Regions from separate parts of the Homo sapiens genome. Here all the other regions are linked to region 1. Evidence: fine-mapped expression QTL. A gene starts in region 1. Each other region holds a variant in brackets. All regions are shown on one strand. Distances are from middle to middle. Region 1 holds the start of LINC03125 (long intergenic non-protein coding RNA 3125). Region 2 has its middle 100 kb from the start of LINC03125. Region 3 overlaps LINC03125 (long intergenic non-protein coding RNA 3125).

Evidence for each region. PIP is the estimated chance that this variant, and not a neighbour inherited with it, causes the effect.
Region 2: its variant is fine-mapped to the expression of LINC03125 in pancreas (GTEx, PIP 0.98).
Region 3: its variant is fine-mapped to the expression of LINC03125 in unexposed skin (GTEx, PIP above 0.99). The same link has a PIP of 0.9 or more in aorta, lung, sun-exposed skin and tibial nerve.

What each region holds. Positions count from the first base shown.
Region 1 is chr20:23,144,505-23,152,687 of GRCh38, forward strand. It overlaps LINC03125 (long intergenic non-protein coding RNA 3125), which reads left to right and starts at 3,599. Exons shown (of 6, transcript NR_199692.1): 1 at 3,599-3,910. RefSeq lists enhancers at 3,048-4,247, 5,742-6,725.
Region 2 is chr20:23,243,946-23,252,128 of GRCh38, forward strand. No RefSeq gene overlaps it. Among named protein-coding and RNA genes, the nearest start is that of LINC03125, 100 kb to the left of the region's middle. RefSeq lists a silencer at 1,767-2,061. The variant A/G (reference allele first, on the strand shown) is at 3,932.
Region 3 is chr20:23,185,440-23,193,622 of GRCh38, forward strand. It overlaps LINC03125 (long intergenic non-protein coding RNA 3125), which reads left to right. Exons shown (of 6, transcript NR_199692.1): 5 at 1,876-2,201; 6 at 4,344-4,868. Among named protein-coding and RNA genes, the nearest start is that of LINC03125, 41 kb to the left of the region's middle. The variant G/A (reference allele first, on the strand shown) is at 4,374.

The sequences.
Region 1 (8,183 bases):
GCCTCCACCTACCCGGAGATGTGCTGGGAAGCACAGTGACCCAGCCACCATGTCAGTTCTCTTTCCTCAAAACAGTGCTGACCACAGCTGGCTCCACAGAACAGATATCCATTGAGATGCTCTGAGGGATGTGTGGAGGGTTTCGGAAAATACACTCTCTCGGGGCTTGGAGGTCTGGCACCCACTCTAGCATGGCTGTGGCTCCAAGGAGAGCCTGGCCTTGCCTGGGAACCTCTGCCATGTCACCCTCTTCCCTGGCACTCCATGAAAGATGCAGCTCTCACAGCTCCCAGATGTTCTCTCAGCAGGAGCTATACAGGTTAGCAGGAGGCAGGAGGCCCAGACTCCTGGACAAGTGTAGGCAGCTCTCTCGGTGGGCTGCTGGGGAAACCCTGCTGGCTGGTGGAAAAGAGTTAAACCTTTAGGACAGAATTACATCCCTTAGATAACCCAATTCTCCCCAGCTTGCAGGGCTGCTCAAGTCAACAAGCTCTCCATACTCAGTGAGCCAAGGATGCCAGATGGCAGGCTGCGGGCACTGATGGGCCAGAGGACCAAGTCAGTGTTACGTGGAGAATGAAAACAGGGAGAATGAATGACAGAGCATGACCGGGCGGGCTGAGGTAAGGCCCAGGAAGGCCCATTTCCACAAAGAGCCACACGGCAAGAAGAAGCCAGCCTGGTGGGGAAAGCAGCCTGTGCAAAAGCTTGGTTTGTCCAAATAAAGAGAAGGAGAATGACACGGCTGCAGTCTTGTGAGCCATGGCAGAGGGAATTAGAGCAGCCACAGCGGGCAGTAAGAGGCCAGGAAAGGGAGGTCAGGACTTCTATCAGTGTTGTGGAGCAAGGCTGCTGGGTCTGAATCAGGAACATGAAATCATCTGACTGGTGGTTTTCAAAGAAAGAGCTTGCTGCCTGCCTGCGGGGAAGGACTGCAGGAGGAGGATGCTGGATGCAAGTAGGGAGGCTTTGCAGCAGGACAATCCAGGGTGACGGCGTGAGGTATGAGGGTCAGAGTTGAGATGGAGTCAGTCTGCAGACTTGGCATGGAAGGCGAGAACTCACAGAGAGAGCACGTGTGCTGTATGTGTCACGCAGGATGGCAACCGCTCCCAGACGGGCACTGATGGAAACAGTGAATCAGAGAAAGGGCTGAAACAGTGCCCTGAAGCCTGGCCAGGCAGGGTCACTGGGAGCACCCTGGTGGGGTGTGCAATTGTATGGTTCATTTGCCCAACACGGCACAATGCACAACAGAGAAAATCAAATCAAACTCCAGACAAGAACACTTTGCTTAAGAAAGCAGATGTGAGAAATGTGCCACTTGTTTGTGAAAGTTTTTCATCAAAACAGCTCTCACAGAGATGGGGGGGTTTGATTTAAATGAGAAATGTGCTTATAAAAAACAGATCTTTGGTGAGTAATGAATAGCTATTATCTTATCTATTTAATTATGTATTTAAACGACATATGAAATTTATTATATTTTCCTAAACAAGTTTGAATTATGTTTTTGATTATCTGAAGTGCAACAAAGTTCATCTGCAATGATTCAGCTGTTTATTCATTCTAATATATGGCCACCTACTACACTGTCTGGCACCTATCGAGAGTTTAACAGATGTTTAATTAATAAGTAAGCATCAGTTGGTGAATAGCAGTGCTATTCCAAGATCTTGAGGAAATATTAGAATCTATAAGATGTGGCTCTTCCTGGACAATCAGGCTGAACTCAGCAATTCTGCCACTTCTCAGAGGCCAAAACCACTCCATGAGAAGGCTCCCTATCAGAGCCAAATCACCTCTGGGCAGAGCCAAGATAAATCCAGTGCAATCTACATGAAGTTGTCTGTTTAGACCACACAGATCTGCACAATCTTCCCTACAGGGCCCTGGTGACATCTGCTGAAATGAATGAAGCAGTCGAATCAAGGGCACCATGCTTCACAGTCACGTTTCTCATCTTTTCGCTGCATGGACTGTTCTGCGGGGACGTGGCGGGTCTCGGGGCTGGGCAGTCTCAGAGGGTCAGGATCTGAGCGCACTATGGATCCGGGGAGAGGGAAGGGTTAAGAATCAGTGAGGAAGGGGCTGGGCAAGGACATTCTACCCACCCCCCACCCCCCGCCAAAAAAAAAAAAAAAAAAACAACTCACAGGAGGCAAATCTTTGGTGTGTATTTGCAAATGCCAAAGAGAAACATAAAAGAATGGTTTTCCTATGGAACACTGAAGAAAAATGTCGATCCTGATCTTTCCTCTGTCTCCTGCTTGCCCCCTGCCCTACGAGGCCAAGCAGCCAAGCAAGTGGTCAACAGGTGGCCTCTCCGAGCAGAACCGTTTCAGATGTTTAAGAGAAATGACATTTTAGGAGTGGAGCAATGAGCTCAACTTTCTGTGACAAACTTCAGGGGTACTTGTTTAAAAGCATGTTATTTGTGCTTCACCCACAAAGGTTCCAATTTGGAAGAGCTGAACTGGGCCCAGGAATGTATATCCTTTGTGTGTCCAGGAGGAGGTGTGGGTGGAGATAAGCAGCTCCTTGACCACACTTCAAGCAACAACTGGGGTGTGATTCTGAGGCATGTCTTCTCCTCCTCCATTGACTTTCTCCTCTCCAAAGGGTTATCACTGGTGTGACCAGCTCCTCCAGAGGTACCTAAGGTGATCTCATAGCAAAGACCCACGCCCTGGACCCATCCTGCTAGTGATGAATCTGAAGGTTCTGAAGGTTCTGTGCATAACCATGTGGAGCCTGAGTGCACAGGGGCCCAGAGCTATCCTGATTTCTAATCTGGAGCTCTTTTGTCTCTACCAAACTGCTTCTTTATTGAAACTTTACATCCTGAGGGGTTCACTGAATAACAGCGACCCCAAGGCACCTAGAAACAAGCAATGTCATGTTTCTGTACTTGGATTAGAAAACAGGAAGGGAAGGCAGGAGAGTGTGTGGTGTATCTTAGAAAAACTTTTTAAACGTGATACAATCTGAGGAAAATTTGCATTGATGCCAGTAGAGGGCTAGATAGCTTTAAAATTGATCATTTAAATGTATTGACGTAGAAACGTATTCACAATATACTTTAAATGGAAAGCTGTGTTAGGGTCAAGTCTTACAATGCGATTCCACGGTTGCACTGCCACACACACACACTTACATATGTGCCCAGAAAAGCATTGGAAGTAAACCACGTCCTCCTGTTAATAGCAATTGTTTCTGGGTGGTGGAGTTTAGGGGAACTGATGCACTTTTTTCTTTGGTTTTGCCCATCTGTACTGTAACTTTCCCCGAACAAATGTGCATCACTTGTGTCATAATTTACTTTTTTTAAATACATGGAAACAACCACAGTCTGTATTTATTCTCTGGTTAAAGTGCTAAGCCTTGTAATCTAGAATATTCATCTGTCCGAGACTGTACCCTGGGACTCATCTCACGATGAGACATTTGGCCTCCTCCCCAACTCAGTTTCAGAATTCATCTGCTGGATTTCTGAGTCCCACTGAGTGATTAATGTCACACGGGTGACAAGGCATGACTCATAGGCACCAAGAAAGCAGCAGCAGTGTGTGCAGGCCGGGAAGTTGCCACAGCCCTCACTCAGGGCTTCATGCACGCCAGGGCAGTCCTGGGTCAATGGTCTCTTTCCCCTCCTCCTGTTGGATAGATGAAGAGGCCTGAGCAGGAAGGTGGTGGTTCCGTGGGGAATCTTCAGTGACTGGAGTATGTTGTAAGGATGGTGAATCGTCACTTGGCCAGCCAGGGTTTGGCAGTCAAGACAGAGAGCAGTGTCTGGGCCCACAGCATGAGAGACTGCTGGACTTCAGTCTTCGGAGCAGGCAAGAACGGGGAGCTTCTGTGGATTTCTATTCCTGTCGCCTGTCACTGTGAACAGTGCCCAGTACTGCTGGTCAGTAAATGTTTGCTAAAATACTGAGCAACCAAGGAAGTGACTTCAGTTGAACTCTGTACCTGTTGTGTTCACTTCCTTTGCAACATGCGTGACTAATGGTTACTCCTTCTCTTGAATGCTTCCAGAAGAGTAGCACTCACCACCTCATGAGGAAAGGCACTGCAACTTTGGTCAATGATATCTGTTAGAAAGATCTTTTCCTATATTTAGAAGAGTGATTCTCATACCTGAGCATGTATGAGAATCAGTGGGTTTGAGGTGGGCCCAAGAATTTCCCTTTCTAACAAGTTCCCAGAAGATGCTGATGTGGCAGCTTCTAGCACAGTGCTTGGAAATCCATGAGTTTTCAAGAGGACAATCTAAAGTGTTCCTTTGTTTTCCTTTACTTCCCCTCATTCTCAAATCCTATGGGGATGACACAGAGAACCACAAACAAAACAACACACACACACACACACACACACACACATACACACACAGAGCACCCTTGTCCCTAGCTTTATCCTCTGGGATACACAGGACAAGCTCCTCCCTGTTCTATGTGCAACTTTTAAAATATGTGCAACTTTTAAAATACGTGGATGTGGCTTTCACATCTTCTTAGTCCCTCTTTAGCAGATTTTTTACAAAACAAATAAGCCAGGAAACCATGGTCTGAAAGGATTCCTGCTCTGGTGAGATCCAAGACCCACAGCGAGGGCGAAGACAGAGGTCTTGCTGCAGCCCCGGCTTCCTCCACATGGAGGTCCCAGGAAGACGGCATAAGCCATTGCCTCGATAATAACCTGCTTGCTAACTTCCAGCCAGTGCTTCCACATTTTCATGACTTCCAAAGGTTCAGATGAGGATGGTAGTTGTGAGTTTGGGATGAAGTCTTCTGAGCGACTCCTATGGCCCAGCCACAGGGACCTGGGGCTGGAGAGAGAGGACCATCCCAGGCTGCAGCAGCCAACACCTGTGTGGAGGTGCAGGCCCGTGGCCCCCAGCTGTGGTGGACACAGCTGTGCTTCCTGATAGCACCCTTCCCTGCACCTACACCGTGACATCCTCCTCCTCAGCCTGAGTGCAGGCACCACCTGAAGGGTATTTGGGGGAGGGCACCAGTGTCCCCAAGGTAGGAGCTAGTGCATATGGCCTCGTCCTTCAGAGGGACAATTCTGAGAGGCAATCTGCGTGCTTTCAAAGGCCCAGAAACACACCCTGTGTTGCCTCCTCCCTGTCTGACTCTTCCTCTTCCTCCTGCTCCCTGGGACCAGCTCCCAAACAAACTCAATTTCTTCTCTCAGTCGAAGTTTGCTAAGTGAGTGAAGAGTCAAATAAATGATGTTGCTTAACTCTCCCTCTGATGTGTGAATGTCCTCTAGGAACAAGCCTTTTGTAGGAGAACTGTAGGCCAGGGCTGAGTGCACCTGGGATGCAGGATCTCCAGGGGGGACCTATCACTTGTGCGAATTTAAACCTGCTCAGAGCTTAGGGCCCGGCTCTGCTCAAGATGGGCAGAAATAAAGAAGACTAAACATTTACATCTCAAGAGTTTATTTACCCTGGCCTGACTCTTCAAAAAATGCCATTGCTGCTACCCTGAGGATTAACCATGGCCATTTTTAGACCAGGTGCCATCCTGCCTTTAGCCTCGGGTCACCCCTCTGACTCACTGCCAGGAAACGGAGCCTAGACCCTGATGTGTGGTGAGAATTGGCCTGGTTTTCACCTGAGATCCACACTTGAGAAAGCTGATTGAACTCACAGCGTGCCATCCTGCCTAAGATCCTCTTCAGAGATTCTATTTCCCAGAGGGAGGGGATCACTTTCCGCAGTGGGGTTTCTATCTGGGACATTTCTCTTCATCTGTAGGAACCCTATTTAAAGGCTAGAAAATCTGAGGGAGAAGTGGAAAGAAGAAAGCTGTGTAGCTGTGACGATGGCCTGGGACATGGATTCCCAAAGCCTGACCCTCCGCTGTGCCCCCTGCTCCCCAGCAGGCATGGTTAGCCTGTCATGGAACCCTGCACCTGAGCCTGGGCGAGCTCCAGATTCCTCAGCACACAGAGCTCCAAGCTCCTCCTGCCAGGCCGCCAGGGCTGGCTCCCGAGAGAATGCACAAGCCTTTTGTGGTGTCTGAGAAAACACAGCTGAATCTACTAGGCAAGGGGTTGTATAGGGCACCTCGGGAAGAAGTCGCACAGGTGCCCCCAGAGATCTCAGGGGCAGGGAGGGGCTCACCCATAAGGGAAGGGGAGGACTCAGAAGGCTTTGAGGAAGAGGCAGCTCCTAAAATGGGTGAGGGCAGAGTGTGCCCTGAGGCCCCACAGCAGGCAAGCAGGTGACTGGAGAAGCAGCTAGGTCTGGTGCCTGTGTGCCAGGCTTGTATGCCAGGGCTGGGCTGCATGGGATGCACAATGCTACTGGGCCAGCACCATCAGCAGTGTACTGCCCCTCACACCCAGGGCAGGCCTTGAAGCTAAGAGAGGGATGGGGCAGTGCCCATCGTTCTCCTGCCACTGGAGTGTGACCTTCTGGTGCCATGACAGCCAGTGGGTGGCAGGTGCCTGCCCCTCTTCCCATAGGCTGCCCCAGGAGGAAGAGGGGCCCGTTCCTGTGAGTAGAGCACAGTGAAACCACTCTCTTTTCTGCACAGTGAAAGAGACATCCTTCACGGGGTGCAGAGAAGCTGCTGCCCTTTCCTCCCCGTCAGGCCAGAGTCTTCCCTACTCCCTGCTGGGGCCAGGGAGGACAGAGGCAGCCCTGAAGCTTCCTGTGGCTCAACTCTTGAAGGCTGCTCAGTTAGAGAAAAAGGATGGTGCTGACCATGGAGGAATCTCACACACACTCCAGGCACCCTGCCTCTGCCTTGCTCTCTGCAGTGGCCACTGAGAACTCTTAGGAATTGACCCTTGCTTCTTAGGCACTGGGCATGAGAGAGGGCCCTCCCTTGCTGTGGGGGCCTCCCAAGACCAGGGAGGCTGGGCCTCTGGAGGTCTCCCCTGAAACTCCTTACCCAGCGGGATCATGCCCTGGGCCTTTGTGCCTGCCGGAATCCTGGTGGGTGGAGGAAATCCGTTACCCTCATGAGAGCTACCTGCCTAGACCCCTGCTGACCTGACCTCACCTTTTGTTTGACCCAGGAACTTACCCGCCCCTTGCTGGGGGTTGGAACTGTCACATGTCCTAAGCCAGCATGAACAGGCAGGATAGTTAGGCTGACTGTGATTGTGCTGGCCATGATGCTCGACTTGGCCCTAGGCTTGACTTTGTTTCATCTGTAATAGTCTCCATTTTTTCTTGCTGTGAAGTAAGCCACCTCAAAACTTAGTGGCTTAAAACAGCAGTTTATTCTTCTTCCCTACCATGGGTTGAGTGTGTGGTCCTTCTGCTGTGCTTGATGTGACTGTGTGGCGTCGTCACAGGGGGGCTTAAATGGGGTGAGACACCAAGCATGGCTCATTCAGAGGCCCAGTGCTTTGGGGAACGGCCAGGAGGCTGCACTCAGCCAGGACCCTCAGCGTCATCTCAGGGTCTCTGCCTCTCTTCGTGGCCTCTCCATGTGGACTTTTTAATTACATGGCAGCTCAGCACTCCCAGAGCACAAATAGGAGCTCTATCTGTAGGAGGTGGCCAGGCCTTCTACAGCCACAGGCCCAGGTCCCTTCCACCACAGCATGTGGGTCACAGACCTGCCCTGACTCACACAGTGGAAGGCAACAGGGCAGCATGCACACCGAAAGCCATCACTGGATCCTGTGTTTACAGCATCTCAATTCCACAGCAACACCCGAGTTTCCATCAAGGAGGCAATGAAGACCCAGCCCGGGCAGCAGGAGGCAGCGGTGTTATCAGGGGCCCACTCGTTCTGAGGGACCATAAAAATACTAGGAAAAGATCATTTTTCATCTTGACTACTTAACAATCTTACAGTTTTATTATAGTCTTAAAGCTCCTGGCCAGGGTTTTATCTTTGGGAAGTATCTCTTTATGTGCCAAGTGCCACCAAACAGCATCTGTTGGTGCCTCCTCCTACAGGAAGCAAGTGCCTCCTCATACAGGAAGCACTGGCATTAGGAACACCCTGTATTTCTCGCCTGCAGCTGCACTGTGTCACTCACTGATGTCATTCTCCTATCTGAAGGGCTCAGGGTCCACTCTCCAGCCTGACCTGCTGCGAGGTCACTTAGCTAAGACCAGCTAAAAATAGCAACTGTTGCTCAGAAGCACCGGCTCTGCATCATGGGCTCACCCTGACGCCTATGCCTCCCCGGGGACAGGGCCGCAC
Region 2 (8,183 bases), 99 kb after region 1:
AGAGCTCACCTACCTTTGCAATCAAAGTTTGGCTGACCAATCACGGCTCACCTGTATCCAATCAGAACTCAGCTGCATTGACCAATCAGAACTAAGCAAGTTTGACTCCTTTATGTGCATCAACCGACCCGATTGGGATCTTGTGTGGGACCTTTGCTACAAAACCCAAACCCTCTCTTTAGCCCCGGGAAGATAACTTTCTTTTACACCAAAGGCTGTGTCTCCCCAGTTTGCAAACTGTTCACTGGGATGAAGTCTCTTTCCTCCCAATTTTGTTTTTCAGGGAACTTTTGCTCACAAAACGAATCACAGCTGGCCCACAGCAGAGCTGCAGGCGGGGCAGAGAACCCACAGCAGAGGGCTCTGTCACCGCAGAACCAGGCAGATCTGTGTGAGCAGCAAGCATAAACTCAGGGCAGCAGGCTCTGTCTTGAGGGCTAGAAGGAACGACGGAGCCACGGCGATGGTCTTTCTCCGAGATGCATTTCCAGGAAGTTGGAATTCTGATCTTACTGAGACTTTATTTTGCTGAGCTTGGCATTGACTACTTGGACACTGAGTCACTGTTTACTGCTTTCGAAAATAAGACAAGCTCATGGGCTTGCTGGGGATGAAGCAAGAAACGTGTGGCCCCATCAGGACTGGCGCCCAGAGCCCGGGTCACCCTGTGCACAGAACTGACACCTTAAGGAGACAGAGTGGCGCCGGCGCCCTGGGCCACCTGGAGGGCCCGAGAGCGGGAGAGGGTTCAGGGAGGGTGTCTGTGATGGGAGGAGCAGGCCCAGGACGGAGGAGGACAGAGTCGGGGGTCTCAGGGCAGTGTGTGCCTTCTGCCAGTCGCTAGGGCGGACTCGAGGTTGCCCTCCGCGCCTTCCTCGCTGTCACCTCCCACAGCCAAGGCAGCTGCCAAGGTCACTCCTAAATACATCCCAAGTCCACCCCATGCCGCTCCCCTCAGCCGTGGTCCCAGTCCAGACCACGATTCCGCCCAGACCCTGCATGACCCCTCCCATCTCAGGCTCCACTTGGGGACCAGAGGGATCTTAAAATATGGATGGGACAGTGACGCCTCTCCTTAAAAGCTCAGGAAAGATGAAAATGTCCTCATCCTCTCTCAAGGCATTTGCAGTTCCCCTACCCCGGGCGCTGCCCCACCCCTCACGGACTCCTCTCCATCCCCGGGTCCCCACCTGGCCACCTCCCTCAGGAAAGCTCCTGGCCCTACTCACCATCAGTCTCTTTAGGACCTCTCCACTCACCCTCTGGCGTTCACCTCTCCCTCTTGCCCGTTAGAGTGAGGCCTTGATGAGGCACCTGCCTTATTCCTCCTGCCCGTCCTGATGGCTCCTGCCCACCTCCACAGCAGAGCCTGCTTCTCCGTGCCTGGAAGCTTTCCCCAGAAGAGCAGGTCTGCATGTACACGCAGGTGCACACAAGCAACAGGCCGGGAGCACCCCTCACCCAGAGACTCTGCCAGTGTGTGTGCAGACCTGAGCTCCCTTGCCCCAGGAGGAACAGTGCTGGTGTGTGTGTGTGTGTGTGTCTCTGTGTGTGTATCTGTGTGTCTGTGTGTGTGTATCTGTGTCTGTGTGTCTGTGTATGTGTGTCTGTGTCTCTGTGTGTCTCTGTGTATGTGTCTGTGTCTGTGTGTGTGTCAGTATCTGTGTGTCTATTTGTGTCTGTGTCTCTCTGTGTATCTGCATGTGTGTCTGTGTCTGTGTGTGTGCCTGTATCTGTGTGTCTATTTGTGTCTGTGTCTCTTTGTGTGTGTATCTGCGTGTGTGTCTCTGTGTGTGTGTCTGTGTATGTGTGTCTGTGTGTGCACTCACACTGGTTCTCCAGGGTTCCTCCCAGGACTGAGCTGAAGTTGTCCACAGCGGCCCCTGCTGGAGCACACACCTTGATTCTCTGCCTCTGCTCCCCAGGCTCACTTCCCCATTCTCTTCTGGCTGCTTCCTGGCATTGCCTCTCAGATAAGCCACTTCGCGCTGATGGGAACTCAGATGCTGGGAGTACACATGCACCTTGGTGTCGAGCTCAGCGGCTGGCACAGAGGGAGGGAGAGAAGGAGGTGGACTACCAAGTTATTGTCTAAACATCAGCCTCTGGTCACCGCTCGTGTGAGGCAGTGAGCATCCCTTCTTGCCCCCTGGGCTCTCAGCGGTCAGCCTTGGGTCCTGGGGAGACTTGGCCAAGTCCCGGTTCCCTGGGGCTATCTCTCTCCTGCCCTGCGCTTTTGAGTGTCCCCTCCCCACATCCCCTCTTTCATCCTGACCCACTACTCTGGTTGTAAATAAAATAAGCAGACTACAACAGCTTACTATCACACTGTTCAGCCATGGACTGCCTTGTTCAGCCATGAACTGCCTTGTCTTGAAGGAATCCTAGTATTACTACTTGAATCCTAATCGCTCTTAAATTTGAAAAATTAAGGCTAATGGAATTTGTACAACAGTTGTATCAAGAGGAAAGTCTATGATAATTACTATAAAAACAGCCCAGCTCCATCAGCTTTGCATGGGTGATCGCTCCAGCGGTGTGCCCATCCTCAGCTATAGTCCCTTTCTACAGATTAGGAGGCAGAGGCCTAGTGAGGCTAGGGCACTTGCCCGGATCCCTTGCAAATGTTTGGCCCATGTCCCTAACCACCATGCTCTTATGTCTCCTGTTTTCTGGGTCACTTCTCACTATGAATTGGGGGATGTAAATATTTGCATAAATTGGATATAAATATCTGAAAGGTTTCAAAGGGAAGGAAAGTGTGTGCCTAGCGTCTCCACTGCTTATGCACAGAAGAGACGATGGGATGCTAGAGGAGCATGCTGAGTCTCTCTGTAGAACAAAATTATCAACCCGTTATCCAGAGCAGCTGAAGGAAAGGGCGGGACTCACCCAGTGACTGAGCAACCAGTGTGAGTGGAGTTGGAAGGGCAACCCCACCCCCGTGGTTACTTGAGGCAAGGACCGACCCTTCATCAAGATTACAGAAATGACCCCATCCTTTAACTCATTATTCACTGCTCATACACTAAACAGGTTGCTTTCTTTGGCTCTCCCCCACCCCGACCCTCGCTCTCTGCCTTTCTTTCCAAAACCTCCACTTTTAGGAAACTTTGGCTGCTGTTTGCAAAATTAGTTCCCAGGTCAAGACATTACATTTGGTCTGGAATTTTCGGGCTCCACCTTTTGGCAAAGGACCACGGAAGTGGCCTTTGGTCCACCCAGCCCTGTGTTTTTCAGCGGGATGTGCTGATGCCGCAGCTGCACTCCGGGGCTGACAGTAGCTGAATGTTCATCAGCAACGCTTAGCACAGTTGGCCACACCTCCAGGGCCCAGGCACAACTTTAATTCAGCCACAGTATCTTCTAATTTTCCCTAATGCTCATGAGAAAAATGTGCTCTCTATAGTTTTTATCCCTAAAGGTTTTCTTTTCTTAGCTGCTGAAGCCACCGAGATTTTCACAGATGGCCAGCACTTCTCACAGCAGTGGTGCCCAGTGACCCGTTTAATAGGGGTATCAGTTCCTGTTCCGGCTCAGACACTTAGAATGTGGTTCTGGTTTCCAGTAATTTTTGATCCTGGAAACAAAAGCGGATGTATTATCCTAGCACCAATATTTCTAATGCAGCCTGTCCACGTAAAAGCCCCGGAGGGCTCAAGCTCTCGAGATGTTTTCTGGAGCCATAACACTGGTCATATTTTAAGTTCAAAACCCCAAAAAGAATATTGATGCTTCAATGGTGGTTTCTGATCTCCAGGAAGGCTGGGGTCAGGGAGGCCTGTGCTTCCTCCAGCCTCGGCCAGTTAGGCAAGGAGTTGGGTCCTGAGCCTCAGTTTCCTGCCTCACAGGGAGGATGAAAGGGGCACTGGTAACACATTTGGCCTTTGCTGTCCTTAATAGACTCCTTAGAGCCATGTGGAAAGTTCCA[A/G]TGGACTTTGGCAGAACCTGAAGGGGAGTCCCCATCACACACAAGCCCTTGTTCCCCACCCAGAGCCCCTGTGAAAGGAGGAGGGGGACGGCCAGATCCCAGAATTATGGGCAGGGATCCTGAGTCAGGTTATGGGCAGGATCCCACAAGCTCCCATCTCTCAAGCCCAGTCCTTACCCTTCCCTTGTGGAGCAGGCTGGGCCCAGAACCCACCGCTCCCAAGGTCATGGTATTCCGCAGACAACCCAGGTCATTCGGGCAATCCCTGGGTGATGATGACACCTTTTAAAACATATATTACAGAAATTTTCTATGTTTGTGTAGGAAAATTAGAAAATCAAAAGAACCAAAGCCAAGAAACATTGAAAATACCTATAATTCCCCTTCACTATGATCCTACTTCACACCACTCATGTTTTGATGTTTTTCTTTACAGTATGCATTATATATATTTATATATGTACATCCATAATTGTTTTCATAAAAATGAGTTCATCTTGCAATCTATTATTCTCAACTTTCCAATGGTTTTTTGGAGTCCCCAAATACATTGCAAAAGATTCAAACAACATAAAAATGAATAGAGCCCCTTCCCCATCAGCCCTCACACTCATGCATCCCCTTCTGGCTGCTGCCGTTCCCTGCTCCAGTAAACAATGCTGCCGTCAACATCTTCCCAGGGCTCCAGCTCACATCCCTTTCTCTGGAGCAGACACAGAGAAGTGGAACTGCTGACTCAAAGCATGGGCACACTCTTTATTTTGATAAATACACCAGTTTGTTCTCTAAATAGCTGTACTGATGTGTTCTCCTGAAATTGGAACAGCTGTTTTCCCACACCTGCTAACATTTGAAATCATTACAAACTTTAATGTTTGCCAGCCTAATAGGTGAAAAGTATTATCTCATGGCTGTTTTAGTTTGTATTTCCCTGAATACTGGTGATGTTTACATTGGCCAGAGCATCTCCACTGCTGTGAATAACCTCCTCACATCCTTGCCCCTATGTAGTGAGTCTTCTACAGTGATTCTAGAACTTCTTTCTATAGTCTGGCACTAAATCTTTGTATATTTTTTCTCCTAGTTTTTTAAATGTCTTTTAACTTTGTTTGTAGTACCTTTATCACAGATAATTTTAAAAATATTTTTATGTAATCAAAACCTTCACTTTTCCTTAATAAGTTTTGTGAGTTTTTTGAAAATGTGTCCACCTAAATAATAAACAGAGACTAAATAAAAAAGAGACTTTCTAAAAGAAAAGATACTTACTCGGGAAGAAAGCATTGCAATAGGAATACATATTCCGTAGTAAATTATGTTGTATTCAGAGAGGTAATGGAAGACAAAGGTTTTTAAGGGAAAAAAAAAAAACCTTTCACAAATGTCATATGCATATAAACTGCAGTTTTAGTTTTTATATTTCTTTCTTTCTTATAAAGAACTTCCAGAAACATTAATGACAGAAAAGAGGGATCTATTTTTTCCCAAAATTATATCCAAGTATCACAATTGAATCCAAGTATCATTTTTGAACATAACGAAATTTCCCATGTATTGGAAAGGCTACACACACCATATACGAAGGTATTACTTACAGTACTTGTGTGTGTGCTAAAATTGCATTCTGTGTGCTCTGTTTCCTTGAAAGTCATTTCCATTTGTTGAGTCAGTGCCTGCCTTTTCTGGTGCTGATTTGCTCCTCTCTGTGCTTAAGAATCCTTGTCATCCCTGTTGAGTTTATCTTAGCCTACAGCAGGGGTTGTGATGGAGGTGCTGGAGGTGGTTGAGATGAAGAAGGTACCTTCCTCTCACTCCCAGCTGCCGGGATTTCTGGTGCTCTACCCAGCCTGGCTGGCCTCACTGCTGTACTGCCCTGTTGACCGTATGATCCTCTTCCTTCGCTTCTCTCTGCTCAGCAGAAGGTGGTGGGAAGTAAAGAGCTCTCAGCCTGGGGTGTTAGATCCACCTACCCAGATCAGCTTCTTGAGGCTACTCAGGAGTTTCCTCGCTTTCTATATCCATGGCCTCTGGCTTCAGAATTCCCAATGGCTTCTATGTGTGAGGCTTTTACCTCCAGCAGTGTCTGAGCTGTGCGGTCCTCTACCCTGCTTCTTTATGGATCATATCCTTTCCACTTTCTCTCTCTCTCAGAAATTCATCAGAACTTCTACCCAATGCAGTTTCCCACATTGAGGATTTATACTTATCTGACATTTTACTGGATTTGGGATGAGCCGATCTTCTCATTATCCTTCTGGAGCATACAGTTCTGCATTGTCATTGCACCCAGCTGTGGAGAATCCCACGCATACATATCCTAAAATGCATTGCTCGGCACCGGGCACATGCCACTCCTAGTTTTAAATATTATTAATAGTCACAATGAACATCACTACACACATATCCTGGACACTTTGTTATTTCTTTTTGTTTGTTTTTTTCTTTTTTTTTTTTTTGAGATGGAATCTCATTTTGTCACCAATGCTGGAGTGTAGTGGCAAAATCTCGGCTTGCTGCAACCTCCTTCTCCTGGGCTCAAGCAATTCTCCTGCCTCAGCCTCCCAGGTAGCTGTGACTACAGGCACCCGCCACCACATCTGGCTAATTTTTTGTATTTTTAATAGAGATGGGGTTTCACCATATTGGCCAGGCTGGTCTCGAACTCCTGACTTCAAGCGATCCGCCCACCTCAGACTCCCAAGTGCTTGGATTACAGGCATGAGCCACCACCCCCAGCCTGTTATTTCTTATAGTAGATTCTTAGAAGGAGATTTATTGGGTCAACCTATATGACAATCTGTATTGCCTATGACCATAAATACTCCCCACTTATCATCCGGAAGAGTTTCATCTGTCTGTGTTCCCACCACCTTTAGAGAGGACCTCCTCACCACCCAGTCAGGACAGCCTCTGCTACTTGTTTTCTGTGTGCCTAATAGGTTTGCTTTGAAATCTTATTTATTTATTTTTTTGAAAAGGAGTCTTGCTCTGTCGCCCAGGCTGGAGTGCAGTGGCGCAATCTTGGCTCACTGCAACTCCGCCTCCCTGGTTCATGCCATTCTCCTGCCTCAGCCTCCCGAGTAGCTGGGACCACAGGCACCCGCCACCACGCCCGGCTAATTTTTTGTATTTTTAGTAGAGACGGGGTTTCACCGTGTTAGCCAGGACGGTCTTGATCTCCTGACCTCGTGATCCGCCCGCCTTGGACTCCCAAAGTGCTGGGGTTACGGGCATGAGCCACCGCACCCGGCCTGCTTTGAAATCTTATCAAAGCCCTGTAGGCTCTTACTCTGAACTTGTCCCAAGACCTTGCAGTTGACTTTGATGAAGCCAAAGTCTGTTCTGTCTTAAAATGAGCCCTGAGCAGATGACTGTGCCTAAACTTCCACCATTAGGAGCTTGCTTCTGGCCTCTGCCAAATTCCCAGCTTGGTCTAAAACCCCTAGCCCTGGCTCTGTCAGGCTTCCAGCCTCAGGAACTAGGAGGGACCAGCCCCCTGGGGATCTGTCTGCCCTCTGTGGGTCCATCATGGGTTTAGTGCCCACAGCGAGTCATACCTGCATGATCATCTGGTTACCTTCATTTTATTATTAAAATCCCAAACCACTTCATGAAGCATTGCCACTCTGGGGAAATCATGTCTTTGTGAAGTTAAGTAACTTGACTTGAGCAAGTCAAGGATTTATACCCAAGCCCAGCTACCTGTGAAGTCTCAGCCTCTATAGAAACTGCCAAAAAAGTCCTGATGGCAGCCTGCTTTGGGCCCAATCCTCAAACGTGGACAACTCTCACAATAGAAGGGACATATAAGTTGGGGATGTTATAGATTCTGACGATGTCAGAAACAGTTTTTCCCCTGATCACCACCTCCCCCAGGTATCGGCTCAAAAGAGAATCACTGTACGAGCTGCAGAGGTGGGGACTGATACTGGTGTGTTTTGTGGAGAATCCCCAGTGCCCAGAGCAATCCTTAGTGCGTAGTACGTGCTCAAATGTATTTTTAAATGCTGAACAAATGCTTCTCAGTTGTTAGCTTGCAAGAAGAGGAAGAAAGGCACATTGAGCAAAAGGAAGAGTGTGGACATCAATTCTAAGCAGCGTCCCATTTCTACACACACTTTCAGCCACACAGGAAGCACTGGCTTACCCTCTCCATGGTGGCTGTACCCCCATCTCATGTCCTAGTAACTCAAGGACTTTCCAGTCAACATGGTAAAGTTCCAAAAGTTATATCCTCTTGGCCCTGGCAGGG
Region 3 (8,183 bases), 41 kb after region 1:
TTCAGAGCTGTCAGACTGGGACGTTTAAGTCTGCAGAAGTTTCTGCTGCCTTTTGTTCAGCTATGCCCTGCCCACAGAGCTGGAGCCTAGAGGCAGTAGGCCTTCCTGACCTCTGGTGGGCTCTACCCAGTTCAAGCTTCCTGGCCACTTTGTTTACCTGCTCAAGTCTCAGCAATTGTGGATGCCCCTCCCCCAGCCAAGCTGCCACCTCACAGTTCAATCTCAGACTGCTGTGCTAGCAGTGAGCAAGGCTCTGTGGGCATGGGACTTGCCAAGTCAGGCACGGGAGAGAATCTCCTTGTCTGTTGGTTGCTAAGACCTTGGGAAAAGTGCAGTATTTGGGTGGGAGTGTACTGTTTTTCCAGGTACCATCTGTCACAGCTTCCCTTGGCTAGGAAAGGGAAATCACCCAACCCCTTGTGTTTCCCAGGTGAGGCAACACCCGGCCTGCTTCAGCTTGCCCCCCGTGGGCTGCACCCACTGTCCAACCAGTCCCAATGAGATGAACCAGGTACCTCAGTTGGAAATGTGGAAATTACCCATCTTCTCTGTCAATCATGCTGGGAGCGGCAGACTGGAGCTGTTCCTACTCAGCCTTCTTGGAACAGAGCCCCCCTCACAAAGGACTTTCTCTGGCTAACTCTGATGCTTTTCTGAGTTCTTACCTAAATTTCCCCTTCTCCTTCTGTGGCCCTGCCAGTTTTGTTTTGTTTTGTTTTGTTTTGTCCTTATCACTACCCTTGCTGCCTCCTCAAATTATCCAGAGCCACTGTTGTTTTCTAGAACATTGGCAAGCACGTTGATAGAGTGCCCACATTGTACTGAACTCTGAGGGGAATAGTCTCGTCCCCATCACTCAGGTGGGGAAACTGAGGTGAGGTTAGTTTAAAGTGGGTAAGCAGTGGGTTTGGAATTGGAGCTCTGGCTGGCTGGCTCATGTCCGTGCTCTTCCCACCACAGCAGGAGGCCACTGGAGGCTCCAAGGGCTCTGAAATGTTGAGAACTTCCCTGCAGGTACCAGCGAAGAGGGCAAGAACACAGCACTACTTCCTTGGATACTGTTTCCCTCCTCAGAGGGGTTTTCTGAGCTGCCCTGGGTCCTGTGAGGAAGGTAGGAATTACATTTCACTAGGGAACAGCCAGGGTCACCTCCTTGCCTGAGGCCCCACCATCCCATCAGCCTGGATGGGCCTGCTCAGCAGCCACACTCGCCCCTAGGCCGAGAAGGGGTGGGGCTCGGTTCCACAGAGTCTCCCAGGGCCTCAGGCAGGTACTCTAGGCTGATTCCATCTCCAGGTTCGCAAGTAAAAAAAAAGTCAACTGCCCAAAAGACTTCTCTTAGAACTCACAGCAGGTTAGGCTGGCAGGTGGAGTCTATGCTCGGGTGGTCCCATCTGCCAGGCCTGATGTTCCAGGTGAAGAGATTGGTGAGCACCAGGTGACCCCACCCAGGTGCACGTGGCTCTGTCGGGTACAGGCAAGTCTCTGCCCACCAAAGGGACACCACAAGGGCCCAGGCAAAGCAGAGCCTTTCTCACTGGGTGTCTGCTGGTGCTGATGTCACCAAGGAACACACCCCGGGCAGCTTAAACCACAGACGTTTATTCTTGCATAGGGCTGGAGGTCACAAGTCTGAGATCAAGGTGCTGGACAGCCTGGCTCTTCCTGAGGGTGGCTGGCAGGTCCAGTGCAGGCCTCCCACCTTGGCTGGTGGACAGCCATCTGCTCCCTGGCTCTCCATATCACCTTCCCCTTGTGCCTGTCTCTCTCCAGATCTCCCCTTCCTGTAAAGACACCAGTCCTACTGGATCAGGGCCCACCCGTGTGACTTCACTTTTACTTGAGTACCTCTCACAGACCCTAACTCCAAATCAGGTCACTTGCTGAGGTACTGCATGTGAAGACTTTGACATTTGAATTTTGAGGGGGCCACCGTTTAACCTGAACCACCAAGGACAGAGCCAAAGACCCTGGGTGACAGGCCCAGAACAGGACCTGGTGGAGGCTCTTCTTTAGGGGAGAGAGGGAAATGGGAGCCACCACTGGCAGAGCCTGAAGGCAGGGCAGCCAGAAAGAAGCTGTGGGAGTCCCCACCATGGAAGACCCTGCCGAGCATCCTGTGTCTCCTGAAGCAGACCCTGACATGAGGACTGGGGGCACGTGTTTATTAAGGGCGATCCCCGGAAGGAGGAGATAACCAGGTAGGGAAGGAGGGAACCCCAGGGCAGGGCTCTAGAGAGAGAGGATGACCCTCAGGAGCAGGAGGGTGCACCTGAAACCAGACCCAGCAAGAGATGGAAGCCCTGGGAGCAGCCCCACTCCAGGTCCTCTGCAGGAGTGACCCAGCTGCCACCAGGCTGCCCTGCCCAGCTCAGCAGGCCCTACGGGTGCAGGGAAGCAGATGGGCAGTGAGATCTGGGACCGGTATAGAACCACAGCTGCCACAACTGCCCATGGCTCCCTCCCTTCTTTGACGTCAGAGTGAGCAGGGCGGTTTCTGCTGCCTTCGCATTCCAGCCCCACACACCTCCCTGCAGCCTGGCACTGGAAACTGCTGAGCCATGCAGGGCAGCCTGGTGGCGGCTAGGACACTTCTGCAGAGGACCTGGAGTTGGGCTGCTCCCGGGGCTCCCATCTCTTGCTGGGTCTGTTTTCAGGTGCACCCTCCTCCTCCAGGAGGCAGGGGCAAGACCAGCTTCAGCCCTTCTTGCTCTCCATGGTCTGTATATGGACAGGGTGTGGGCCCGGGGAGACAGTTGTGTGGTGTGTGCATTGTGTGTGTGGGGGGGGTTGTCTGTGTGTCTGTGAATATTTGTGTGATATGTGTGTAGTATGCTCATGTGTCATGACTCTGTGAGGGTGTGATGGAAGAGTGTGTGTAAGAGAGAAGTTTGAGTGTGTGTGGTGTGTGCATCTGGTGTCTGTGGGTGATGTTTGTGTACATAGTGTCTGTGTGTGTGATGTCGGTGTGTTGTGTGGGTTTGTGTGTGTATATAGTGTCTGTGTGTGTGATGTCAGCGTGTTGTGTAAGGATTTATGTGTGTGTGTGGTGTCTGTGTTTGTGATGTTGGTGTGTTGTGTGTGGGTCTATGTTTGTGTGTGATGTTGGTGTGTGTGATATCAGTGTGTTGTGTGTGGGTTTATGTGTGTGTGTGTGATGTCTGTGTCTGATGGTGTGTTTTGTGTGGGATTGTGTGTGTGTGTGTGGTGTCTGTGTGTGTGATGTCAGTGTGTTGTGTGTGGGTTTATGTGTGTGATGTCGGTGTGTGTGATGTCAGTGTGTTGTGTGTGGGTTGATATGTGTATGTGTGATGTTGGTGTGTTGTGTGTGCATTTATGTGTGTGTGGTGTCTGTGTGTGTGATGTCAGTGTGTTGTGTGTGGGTGTATATTTGTGCATCATGTCAGTGTGTGTGATGTCAGTGTGTTGTGTGTGGGTTTATGTGTGTGTCTGATTTTGGTGTGTTGTGTATGGGTTTATGTGTGTGTGGTGACTGTGTGTGATGTTGGTGTGTTGTGTGGGTTTATGTGTGTGGTGTCTGTGTGTATGATGTCAGTGTGTTGTGTAGGTTTATGTGTATGTGATGTTGGTGTGTGTAATGTCAGTGTGTTGTGTGTGGGTTTATATGTGTTTGTGTGATATTGGTGTGTTGTGTGTGGGTTTATGAGTGTGCATGGTGTCTGTGTGATGTTGGTGTGTTGTGTGGGTTTGTGTGTGTGGATGTGGTTTCTGCCTATGGGAGGAGGTTTGCTCACAGATGGAGGAGAAGGAGCTCTATAGGCAAAGATCCCAGGGCCGTGGAGGAGGAGACACAGTCCTGAGAACTCCTTCCTCTGAATCAGAAGGACAGGAAAGGTGGGATTTTAAAGGAACAGAGAACCCTGGTGGGAGAGGTGAATCTGAGCTCCTCGGGCCATCGGGTGTCCTGTGGAGCAGAGGCAGGCCCGTGAGGGTGATTTTCAGAATGCTGCCTGCTTCTGAGAGTGAGATGAAGACCCTCTGGGGTCCCGTTGATGTCACCAATGTCGCCTGTCTTGAGGCATCTCTGGTCCAGACCTGGCTGGGAGAGAGAGCTATGGGTGGAGATGCACTGGGTGGGTGCTGGTGGGAGGGGAGGGCTGGCTTTTCCTCAGCCCCCAGACTTAGAGAAGATCACACGCAAGAGCTTGGAAGTCCTGGGAGGAAGTATGATCCCGAATCCTGGCACACTTGATCATGCGTGACAGGGACTTAAGAAAGCCCCTAATTATAGCCGTGTGGGGTTTGTCTCCCTTCTGAAGCTTGGCGCCCGTGTGCTCAAGGCAAGGGCGTGACCAAGGTAAGAGACCCCTTCTCTCCCTTAGGCAGAAGTCCTAGCAGAGTATGCCCACGCT[G/A]GTTAGTGCTGCTGCAAAGATGAGCCGAAGACCATGAGAGACCTCCAGGTGGTCCTTCTGGGGAGAAGAAATGGGTTTTGGCCCCAAATCCTTCTGCTGCATTTTTCCCCTATCCCTGGGAAGCCATGAGACCTCAAACCTGTGTTCCCAAGGAGGCGAGCTGCTGTTCCCAGGTGATGATATGATGTGCTTGGGGAAAGTAAGTGGCTGCCAGACATGGCTGAGAGCTGTTGTCACTGCCGTCAAGTGCATGTCTCCAAGCCATATCACACGGCGTCCCTCGATGTGAGGCCACATGGCAAGTGGGCCGTGGATCTCCCTCTGCCCTTTGCAAGCACGTAAGACAGCAGATTTTGCAGATACCTTGTGGCGCAGGGGAATTTCCTTTGGCCAGGTCTGAAGAAATAAAGCAGCAGGCACCGAGAACAAAGCCAAGGCTTTCAAAAGACAAGGAGCCAAAAAACTTACTCAAAATAAAAGTAGTTTTAAAATGTCTCTGCCATTGGTAGTCTCATTTTCTTTTTAATGTAGGAAATAGTCAAGTATTAAAATGACCAAAATGAAACAAGTGCCTCATGGACTGAGAAGGAAGGAGGAAGATAAAAAATGAAACCAGGACAGAGAAGAGAGGGAGGTTCTGGGTGTATTTGCTTTGGGATTACATGTGCGCATGTCTTGTTTTTCCCTTTTATATCTCCCTCATCTGAAATATGTAGCAAAGAAAAATTTAAGCTGTAAGAGGGAAACTTTTTCCAAACAGTGAAGTTTACCAAACTGTGGCCTGAGATCTATATTCACATTCTAAAAAACCATGCCCAATTCCCCACGCTAACAGCAGCTCCAGACCAAAGAGCAGCTCTTGTCTTGACCAAAGTGAATAACTATCTTAACACGAGGTGACTAGAAACCATCTGTCTTGAGACCAGAGAGGAGACCTGTGGTCAGTGACGCTGTTCAGCAAATACTTGCCATTCCTGACCTCCAGGCTCAAGGAGGGATTGGCCACCCTGGTCCCCTAGGAAGATGGGGCCATGTGCTGGCTCTGGACAATGGTCATGATGGAAATGGCATCTGCTCTTGCAGGCCAAAGAGTTTAATTGCCTCCAGAGCTCTCCTTCCCTCTGCAACAGTGACCTACAATGTCCAGGTAGCAGTCCTTCCATCACCTTGAATCTCAGAGTAAGAATGACATGGAGTAGAGCCCCCCAGGTAAGCTGTATTGAACATGTAACATGTAGATGAAATCAACTGTTGTTTAAATTCACTAAGTGTGAATTACATAGCACAACTATACTTATCTTAATTGACACAAGATGAGTTTGTTTCTTAGCTGACCAATAGCAAAAATCCAATAAACAGATGAATAAATTAATAAATAGATGGATGAATGGATGGATGGATGGATGGATCAGTGGATGGGTGGGTGGATAGATGGAGCTGTTAGATATGGCTCTTTGTTTATAAATCTCAACCACAAACTTTGTCACTTCTCCAGAATAAAACTCCTACATGGTAGGGACTCTGTGAATGTTATTAAAATGAGAGAGCTATTAGAAGCCAAGAGATGAGGCTGATTTTTACCTCTGGCTTTAGAATATTTGGTGCCACTGTGTATAAGCTTTACCCACCATTGACAAAAAGGGACCCACTATGGACACCTCAGGAAGTTCTTCAGCCTGCAGGCACTTCTGTTCCGGGTAGGGATTCAGGTTATCTAAACTCCAACCAAGTGTGACCAATAACTCTTGTTGCTCCTATAGCCTCAGCAAGAACACAAGCAAATATGCTCTCATTTTTGATAAAAAGCATGTCTATGATTGTTGATGTGCAAATATAAAGAGCCAAGCATGGAGAAAGAAGAACAAGAGTTAAAACATACCTCAGTGACCACCACCAGCCCTTACATACCTGCCCTGTCCTGGTCCCCTTCTCCAGGTGCCCTCTTCAAAGTATCCCAAACCAGAGAAACAATATAACCAGTGACCATCAGGGAGATTTCAGTTCCAGACCTAGGACCTGCAATGAATTTCAGGGGAAAAGTGCTTTCCTTTTTTATCATCTACTCAGAGGATGTTGACTGACAGCTAAAACTACTCAAAGGGTACAAAATTCAGCCTTATGGTTTCAAGAATAGTCAACCCTGCATGTGAAATCATCAGAGAATGGAGATTTGCCCCCTGTCCAGGCAGGCTCTTAAATTTGCAGTTCAGATATAAAAAAAAGGTCTCACTTGTTTACTTATCTGTTTTGCATATATTTTTTATTTTCTGTTGAGTATGATATTTGATATAAAAAAAAAAAAACTTTTTAGCTGAGGATGGCTTCTGGGGTTAGCCAGTTCTTAGAGACAGCAGAAGACTCAGCTGGGAGCATGCCTTTGATGCACCAACTAACCCATCCAGAGCCATTCCCTTCTATCTGGCCTGTACATCTCAAAAGGCAATATTCCTCTACCTTGACAAGCCCAGGGCCAGCTACCAGGCAACTAGAGACCACCAAAAGCCCCCTAAAATTATTCCAATTGGCCAATTCTAAATTGTTCACACTGCCCTGTTTTGCCTTTTCCATCGAAACCAAAATAAGGACTGAGGTCCAAGCTGTCCCTAGCTCCTGTCTTCTGCCATCTGACCAAAGCTTGGTGCTTCCAATGTGGCCCTGAGTTGTATGTGGTGGCCTCCTCTCTGGAACTGTGCGTGTAGTCAACTTTGTCTTTCTCACGTCTCCTTGGTGGTGGCATCTGACTGATTATCTCATAAAGAAACACAAAACATTACTGTTTCTGTTTCTGATCTTTAAAGCCAATGAGAATAGACATGCCCAGTGCTGCTGGGCAGGGCAACAGGCGCTCAGCACTGCTGTGGGAAAATGAACTCCTGCAATCTTTCTGGAGGGCAAACATCAACAAGGCTTGCCAACCTTTAACATGTGCACACACTGCCTCCCAGCCACTCCAATTCTAGGAATTTATCCTAAGAAGATAATGAGTTAATTGCAAATATGAATATCCAAAAGTGTTTATCACTGTTTAACATAGAATCATGAAAATTTGGAAACAACTACCATGGACTATGGTAGGGGATGGAATAAATAAACTTTGATGCCATATGCAGTAGAATGCATAAAACCTGCATTTGAAAAAAGTATTGTGTGCCACGAGAAAATACTGTATGATAAAGATCTTTTAAGGCTCTATGACATTTTCTGTATGATTCCGTTTAATTGTGTAAGTCTGTATATAAACAATGCTATTAACATCAACATGCTCTGTGGTGGGTTATAGGAGATTTTTATTCACGTCTCAGTACTCTTCTGTATTTTCAAATTCTTGACTGTAAAAATCTACTTCTCTAGAATAAGAAGAAAAAATCTATAATTTTTTAATTGATGGGGAAACAAACCTTGAATGATAGGAACCAACAGTTTTGTCAGTTATTCATAATTAATGCTATCAGTATTTAGTAGTTCTCTTCAAGCATGCAGGTTTACAAAACACCACTGGTTTATCATCTTGTGAATCAAGACCCATTTTCTTGAGTATAGAGGCTCTGGCATGGTGAAAACACTGAACACTTAATTCACAAGAGCTCAAGCAAGACTTGGCAAAAAAAGAAAAAAAAATCAAATCATTTTATGGATAAAGAACAAAGCCAAGGTGGAGATGGCCCCTTTCTCTTCTTTGTTAAAACTGATCATTGATCATTGATGGAACATGGAACTTGGGGTTTGGGGGGATTTGTTTGTTTGTTATTTGTGGTGGGGAAAAAAGTTTTCAAAATAGGCTTTGGCATAGCCCTGCCTGGGGTCAGGCTG